2 separate regions of the Homo sapiens genome follow, and region 2 is linked to region 1. Evidence: fine-mapped expression QTL. A gene starts in region 1. The other region holds a variant in brackets. All regions are shown on one strand. Distances are from middle to middle.

Region 1 (4,251 bases):
AGAAAAGTAAGAGATGCTTCCCCCACCCCAATAAAGTACCTAGAAGACTGTCTGTCACTTAGCAGGTGCTCTTTTCTTTTCTTTTCTTTTTTGAGACGGAGTTTCCCTCTTGTTGCCCAGGCTAGAGTGCAATGGCAGATCTCCGCTCACCACAACCTCCACCTCCTGGGTTCAAGCGATTCTCCTGGCTCAGCCTCCTGAGTAGTTGGGATTACAGGCACCCACCACCACGCCTGGCTAATTTTTTTGTATTTTTTGTAGAGACGGGGTTTCTCTGTGTTGGTCAGGTAGATCTCGATCTCCCAACCTCAGGTGATCTGCCCACCTCGGCCTCCCAAAGTGTTGGGATTACAGGCGTTAGCCCCTGCACCCAGCCCTTCTCTTTTTTTCCTTCTCTTCCTCTCTCTCTCTCTTTCTTTCTTTCATTCTTTCTTTCCTCTTCTCTTTCTCTCTCTCTCCCTCTTTCTTTCTTTCTTTCTTTCTTTTTTTTTTTTTTTTTTGAGACGGAGTCTCGCTGTGTCTCCCAGGCTGGAATGCAGTGGCGCACGATCTCGGCTCACTGCAAGCTCCGCCTCCCAGGTTCACGCCATTCTCTTGCCTCAGCCTCCGGAGTAGCTGGGACTACAGGCGCCCGCCACCACGCCCGGCTAATTTTTTGTATTTTTGGTAGAGACGGGGGGGTTTCACCGCGTTAGCCAGGATGGTCTCGATCTCCTGACCTTGTGATCTGCCCACCTGGGCCTCCCAAAGTACTGGGATTACAGGCGTGAGCCACCACACCCGGCCATTTTTTTTTTTTTTTTTTTTTTTTTTTTTTTTGCGATAAGTCTCGCTCTGTGGCTCAGGCTGGAGTGCAGTGGCACAATCTCGGCTCACTGCAACCTCTGTCTGCGGGTTCAAGCGATTCTTCTGCCTCAGCCTCCTGAGTAGCTGGAACTACAGGCATGTGCCACCACGCCTGGCTAATTTTTGTACTTATAGTAGAGACGGGGTTTCACCATGTTGGCCAGGTTGGTCTCGAACTCCTGACCTCATGTGATCCGCCCACCTCAGTCTCCCAAAGTGCTGGGATTCCAGGCATGAGCCACCGCACCTGGCCTAAAAGTAAATTTTTTTTTTAATGTAGGCTGAGCGTGGTGGCTGAGGGTTATAATCCCACCGCTTTGGGAGGCCAAGGCGGAGAATCACTTGACGTCAGGAGTTCAAAACCAGCCTGGGCAACACGGCCAGGCCCCATCTCTACAAAAACTACAAAAGTGAGCTGGGCTTGGTGGCAGCGCCTGTAGTCCCAGCTACTTGAGAGGCTGAGGCGGGAGGATCGCTTGAGCCCGGGAGGTCAAGGCTGCAACGAACCATGATTGCGCCACTGCGCTCCAGCCTGTCCTTAAAAAGATCAAATAAAGTGGCCTCCCAGCCTCCCTCCCTGGAGCCTCCACCATGTAACCCCCTGGACATTCGCGCGTCTCCTTGGCTGGGATGACCTCGCTGATGGCTCTGTGCTGAGTGGCCACTCCGCCTCTAGACCCCCGGGCGCACTCTGGGGCCAGCAGTGGGGAGCGGACGCCTGAGGGGACCGTGGCACCCGCCCCGCCCCGCCGGGCCGGGCCTGCCCACTGCGTGCCGGGCGTGTCCGGGCGGGCGGAGCGCGGGCGCGGCGGGGGCGGGCGGCCAGGCTAGTCGGGCGGGTGCGCGGGGCGCTCGGGGCCCGGGGCCAGAGCTGGAGCCGGAGCCGGGCGGGCGCCATGGAGGGGCTGCGGCGGGGGCTGTCGCGCTGGAAGCGCTACCACATCAAGGTGCACCTGGCGGACGAGGCGCTGCTGCTACCGCTGACCGTGCGGCCGCGGGACACGCTCAGCGACCTGCGCGCCCAGCTGGTGGGCCAGGGCGTGAGCTCCTGGAAGCGCGCCTTCTACTACAACGCGCGGCGGCTGGACGACCACCAGACGGTGCGCGACGCGCGCCTGCAGGACGGCTCGGTGCTGCTGCTCGTCAGCGACCCCAGGTGGCCGCGGGGCTCGGGGTGGGGTGGGGCGGGGGCGGCGGCCGGGGACCCCTGGAGAGCGGCGGGGGAGGCGGGCGCCCAAGGCGGCCTCCCGGGCCGGCACTGCTTTCCCACCTCGCGCTGCCCGCCCGGCCTCTCTCCTGACCCGGCCTTGCCGGTGTCAGGTCTTGCTTTCGGGCTCTCTGTCTGTGCCTGTTTCTCTGCCTGTTTCTGTCTCTGCTGTTTTTCTGCCTCTCTCTCTTTTGTCTCTGTCACTCTCATCTTTGTCACTCTCTCGTCTCTGTCTCTCATCTCTGTCTCTTCTTCTTTTGTCTCTGTCTCTCATCTCTCTCCCTCTTCTTTCTGTCTCTTGTCTCTGACTCTTATCTCTGTGCCTCTCTTTGTCTCTTTCATCTCTCTCTTTTGTCTGTGTCTCTCTTTTATCTCTGTCTCTTTCATCTTTGTCTCTCTCATCTCTTTTGTGGCTGTCTCATCTCCATCTCTTATCTCTGTCTCCCTCTTGTTTCTGTCTCTTGTCTCTGTCTCTTTTATCTCTGCGTCTCTCATCTTTGTCTCCTCACCTCTCTCTCTTTTGTCTTTGTCTCTGTCTCTCTCTCCATTTTGGTCTCTGTTTTTTCCTCTCTGTGTGTCTCTCTCCATCTCTGCCTCTGTTTATTTCTTTCCCTGATGATTTGGTTGCCTGTGATTGTCTCTGTCTCTGTCTCTCTTTTCTCTGTCACTCTGTGTCTCTGCCCACTTCTCTCTCTGCTGTTTTCCTCCCTGTTTCTCCCTCATCTCTGTCTCCCTCTCTCTTTTCTGTCTCCCTCTCTGGTCTCTGTCTCCCCATTTTGGTCTCTGCTTTTTTCCTCTGTGTGTGTGTCTCTGTCTCTCTTCCCCTTTGTCTCTTTGTGTCTCTGCCCATTTCTGTCTCTGCTGTTTTTCTCCTTGTGTCTCTCTGTGTCTGTCTCTTTTGTCTCTTTGTCCATTTTTGTCTCTGTTTTTCTCTGTGTCTGTGTATGTGTGTGTCTCTCTCTCCCTGTCTCTCTGTCTCTTTGTCCATTTGTCTCTGTCTCTGCTGTTTTTCTCTCTGTCTCTCTGTGTCTCTGTCTCTGTGTCCCTGTCCAGTTCTGTCTGTGTGTGCGCGCATCTCTCTCTGTGTCTCTGTGAGTCTCTGTCTCTTTTGTCTCTGTCTCTCTCTGTGTCTCTGCCCATTTTGGTCTCTGCTTTCTTTCCTCTGTGTGTCTCTCCATTTCTGTCTCTCTTTCTCTGTCTCTCTCCATTTCTGTCTCTGCTCTTTTTCTCTCTGTGTGTCTCTTTTGTCTCTCTGTTTCTCTGCGTGTCTCTGTCCATTTCTGTCTCTTCCCGCTGTGTATTTCTCTCTCTGTGTCTCTGTCTCTGTTATTTTGGTCTCTGCTCTTTTTCTCGCTGTGTCTCAACATGTGTGTCTGTGTCTCTTTATCTCTCTGGTGTCTCTGCATTTTTCTCTGCTGTTTTTCTCTGTCTCTGAAGCTCTGTCTCTCTCTTCCTTCTCTGGTCTCTCCCTACCGCCTTATCTTTCCCACAGCCCCACTCCAGTGTCCGTTACCCACACTCACACTTGGATATCTGGGTCCCCAAAGAGGTCCCCTGGCCAAGACGACCCTCAAGTGGGGCGTCTTCTGGCCCAAGGAGGGGTCTGCAGAGAAGGGCGCTGGGGCCACGGGAACAGCTCACTGCCGGCCTGGGGCAGCTCTGGGAAATGGGTCGAGGATGGCCGAGAGGTGGTGAAGATGGTGGGGCCTCGTCTCAGAGCCTGGGACCACCTCCTTGGAAGCATTGAACAGGAGAGGGACGGGGGCCATGTGAATTACCCTGGATTTTATGGGGGTCACATTCACCAGCCCTCTAGAGGCTTGAGTCACCGAGCCTGGGTTGATGTTTTGAGGGCAGGAGCCTCAGATGCCACCCCGTTGCAGGAGTCTGGGGCTGCAATGGGGGCAGGAGAGGCCCCCTCCCCAGGCCCTCTTGAGGGAAGATCTTAGCGGGGACGGGGAGGCTGAGAGGATGATGAGGGATGGAGGTTCAGAGCTTGGGGCTAGGAGAGGGTGTTCTCGGCAGCGTACCTTCTATGAGGTCTGGGGGCTGGACGACCCTCAGACGTCCAGACTGTAATTATGCAGTACAGAGTCAGCATTTATTGTGTGCCTACTGTGTGCCAGACTCCATGCTGGACACTGAAATTCAGCAGTGACCCAGAGAGACCAGATTTCGCCTTCACAGAGCCTAGAGCC
Region 2 (4,251 bases), 20 kb after region 1:
GGTGTGGAAATAAGGGATTGGGGTGCAGAGATATAAGAGGTTGGGGTGCGGAAATAAGCGATTGGGGGTTTCTTGCCCCCTAGGAAAGCGGGACTTGCCACTGAGGGTGAAGGAGAAGGGGTTGAGGGGTACTTGCCCCTGCCCCAGGAAAGCGGGACTTGCCACTAAGGGTGAAGGACCAAGGCGGGCGTCCCTGCGTGGTCTGACACCCTTGAAACGTGAGTGTATAATCAGAGAGGCGTCCCTGCAATGATTAAACACCAAGGGAAGGCTGCCTTCCCAGTCCGTGACCGGCGCCGGAGTTTTGGGTTCACGGATAAAACATGTCTCTTTTGTCTCTACCAGAAAATGAAAGGAATTGAAATTAAGAGAAGGGAGAGATTGAAATGTGGCGCCAAGATTGAAAGGAGAAAGAGGTTGAGGGATAGTGAGGGAGGTTGGAGAAGAGAGTAAAAAGAGGCCGCTTACCGGATTTGAAATTGGTGGGATGTTTCCTGGGCTGGTTGGACTGAGGACCTGAGGTGGTAGGTGGATCTTTCTCACGGAGCAAAGAGCAGGAGGACAGGGGATTGACCTCCCAAGGGAGGTCCCCCGATCCGAGTCACGGCACCAAATTTCATGCGCGTCTGTGTGAAGAGACCACCAAACAGGCTTTGTGTGAGAAGCATGGCTGTTTATTTCACCTGGGTGCAGGCCGGCTGAGTCCGAAAAGAGAGTCAGCGAAGGGAGATACGGGTGGGGCCGTTTTATAGGATTTGGGAAGGTAATGGAAAATTACAGTCAAAGGGGGTTGCTCTCTGGTGGGCAGGGGTGGATCTCACAAAGTACATTCTCAAGGGTGGGGAGAATTACAAAGAACCTTCTTAAGGGTGGGGGAGACTACAAAGTACATTGATCAGTTAGGGTGGGGCAGGAACAAATCACAATGGTGGAATGTCATCAGTTAAGGCTGTTTTTACTTCTTTTGTGGATCTTCAGTTACTTCAGGCCATCTGGATGTATACGTGCCAGTCACAGGGGATGCGATGGCCTGGCCTGGGCTCAGAGGCCTGACAGTAGGTATCTAATAAATGCTGTAGCTCACGCCTTTAATCCCAGTAATTTGGGAGGCCAAGGCAGGCATCACTGGAGCTCAGGAGTTCAAGACCAGCCCGGGCAACATAGTGAAACCCTGTCTCTATAAAAACTACAAAAATTAGCCTGGTATGGTGTTGCACACCTGTGGTCCCAGCTACTTGGGAGGCTGGGGTGGGAGGATCACTTGGGTCCAGGAGGTGGAGGTTGCAGTAAGCCGACATTGCACCATTGCACTCCAGCCTGGGTTACAGAGCCAGATCCTGTCTCAAAAAAAAAAAAAAAAAAAAAAAAAAAGCTGCAGAATCTGTGAGTTGACTGCAGGCCTCATTCTGTCCCCCACCTAGCAGGATAAAATGGTGTGAGGATCAGCGGCAGACTCCCTATCTCCAGGCAGATCTGTCTCCCTTAGATGCTGAAAGATGCCAGATGGTAAACGTGTCTCCATTGTAAGAACTGATCTAACTGATCGTCAGCTTGAACTACTTTCTTTTCCTTCAGATTCCGGATTGCTTGATCCTGCCACATGGGCACAGCACTCTCTGGTGGTCGGTGCAAAGGCTGCAGCATTTTAGAAATGCAAATGCCATCAACGTGGGCAATTAAAGATTTCCTGGTAGCCACAAGAAAAAAACAGTAAAAAGAAGGCTGGGCGCAGTGGCTCACGCCTCTAATCCCAGCACTTTGGGAGGCTGAGGCGGGCGGACCTCCTGAGGTCGGGAGTTTGAGACCAGCCTGGTCTCTACTAAAAATACAAAATTAGCTGGGCGTGGTGGTGCACGCCTGTAATCCCAGCTGATTGGGAGGCTAAGGCCGGAGAATCACTTGCACCCAGGAGGTGGAGGTTGCGGTGAGCTGAGATCACACCATTGCACTCCAGCTTGGGCAACAATGAGCGAAACTCCGTCTCAAAAAATAAAAAATAGTAAAAAGAAACAGGTGAAATTAGTTTTAGTAATGTGTTTTATCATTTAAGCATGCAATCTATAGAAAAAATTGTGAATGAGCTATTTTTTCTGGGGTGTGTGTGTGTGTGTGTGTGTGTGTGTTCTGAGACAGAGTTTCACTCTTGTCACCCAGGCTGAAGTGCAATGGTG[T/C]GATCTCAGCTCACTGAAACCTCCATCTCCCAGGTTCAAGCGATTCTCCTGCCTCAGCCTCCCAAGTAGCTGGGATTACAGGCACGTGCCACCACACCTGGCTAATTTTTGTATTTTTAGTAGAGACGGAGTTTCACCATGTTGGTCAGGCTGGTCTCGAACTCCTGACCTCAAGTGATCCACCCGCCTCGGCCTCCCAAAGTGCTGGAATGACAGGCGTGAGCCACCGTGCCCGATCCGATAGTCACATTTTAAGTACTCAATAGCTACATGTGGCCAGTGGCTCCCACGTTGGACAACGCGGGTTTAGGTACATGATCGTCACTTTCCCAGACCAATGCAATCACCTCCCTTCACAATCTGTTGCCGCTGTAGCCCCCAGAAGGGTTCCTGTGAGCACCTGGGTCTGGCAATGTCTCTCCTCTGTCCAGAGCCCTCCATGGCTCCCATTGCCTTCGGGATGAAGCTAGAACTTCTCACCAGTGCCTGATTGATCCTTGGCTGCCCCCACCACCCCTGTTCTTTCCACGCAGCCAGCCACATCCACCTACCTGCTTGCCTATTCCCCCACATCCATATTTGTTGCCCAGGCTGGAGTGCGATGGTGCGATCTCGGCTCACTGAAACCTCCGCCTTCTGGGTTGGGAGAGAGGATCACTTGGGTCCGGGAGGTGGAGGTTGCAGTGAGCTGAGATTGCACCACTGCACTCCAGCCTGGGTTACAGAGCCAGACCCTCTCTCAAAAAAAAAAAAAAAAAAAAAAAAGCTTTGCACGCAGCTCCAATGTCCTCCCCTCCAAGGTCGCTCAGCACCAGCCCTGACTCTGCAGAGCTTGGGTGTCTGTGTCCAGCTCCATCCCACAGTCCCAGCCTGGGGATCCTTGGGGGCAGGGTCCCAGGCTGAGTCCTCTCTGGAGCCTGTACCGTGAAGCACCGGGGCAGGGTTCAGAAGGATGTATCACCACACAACCTTGAAGCAGCTGCCTCTGCTCACTCATTCCTTCACTAATTCACAGGTGCATTCACTTCTGACCTTAACACCTGGGAGCTAGGTCGGGTGTTGGAGGAAGCCGAGAAACTGGAAGATGGGGAGTGGAATTGAGCCTGGGTGACCGTGTCACTGTGAACAGGATGAACAGGATGACGTTCAGGCTCCTTTTCTGGCCTTCAAGGCCTCTCCAGCTTCAAGGAGACAAACTTATTAGTCCATGAATGAGTCACACTCTCCTTCACTTCTCTAGGCTTTTGCATACACAGTAAAGCCCTTTCAGCAGACCCTACTCATACCTAGAAAACTCCTATGGATGCGTCAAAGCCCAGAACAAGTCCTCATACCTACGCTGGGCTTCCTTCAGCCTCAAGTCTCTCTTTCTATTGTAGTCCACATACAGGTGGGGGTGGCAGGAAGTGGGGAAGGTTACTTGATAGATTAGTAGTGTCCCCCATAGACTAGATAAGGGTGGTATAAAGTGGGGAAGGATACCTGATAGATTAATATTAAAGTATTTGTTCTCTAGAGGTTCTCTAGAGGGACAGAACTAATAAGATAGATGTATATATGAAAGGGAGTTTATCGGCTGGGTGTGGTGGCTCACGCCTGTAATCCCAGCACTTTGGGAGGCCGAGGTGGGTGGATCACTCAAGGCTAGGAGTTCGAGACCAGCCTGGCTAACATGGTGAAATTTCATCTCTGCTGAAAATACAAAAATTAGCCAGGTGTGGTGGTGCATGCGTGTAGTCCCAGCTACTTGGGAGGCTGAGGCAGGAGAATAGCTCGAACCCGGGAGGTGGAGGTTGCAGTCAGCCAAGATCATACCACTGCACTCCAGCCTGGGTGACAAGAATGAGACTCCGTCTCAAAAAAACACAAAAAACAAAAATCAGCTGGGCATGGTGGTGTGTGCCTGTAGTCCCAGCTACTTGGGAGGCTGAAGCATGAGAATTGCTTGAACCCGGGAGGTGGAGGTTGCTTTGCAGTGAGCCGAGATTGCACCATTGCACTCCAGCCTGGTCTCAAAACAAACTAACAAACAAGAAAACAAAAACAAAAACACTTCAGAAAGGGTGCTCTGAAGCGGGTT

Evidence for each region. PIP is the estimated chance that this variant, and not a neighbour inherited with it, causes the effect. A credible set is the group of variants that fine-mapping cannot tell apart.
Region 2: its variant is the best candidate, but not a certain one, in a credible set for the expression of TINCR in gastroesophageal junction (GTEx, PIP 0.79).

Annotation. Positions count from the first base shown.
Region 1 is chr19:5,565,416-5,569,666 of GRCh38, reverse strand. TINCR (TINCR ubiquitin domain containing) reads left to right here and starts at 1,714. Exons shown (of 3, transcript NM_001396408.1): 1 at 1,714-2,002. The coding sequence starts at 1,743.
Region 2 is chr19:5,545,380-5,549,630 of GRCh38, reverse strand. No RefSeq gene overlaps it. Among named protein-coding and RNA genes, the nearest start is that of TINCR, 20 kb to the left of the region's middle. The variant T/C (reference allele first, on the strand shown) is at 2,172.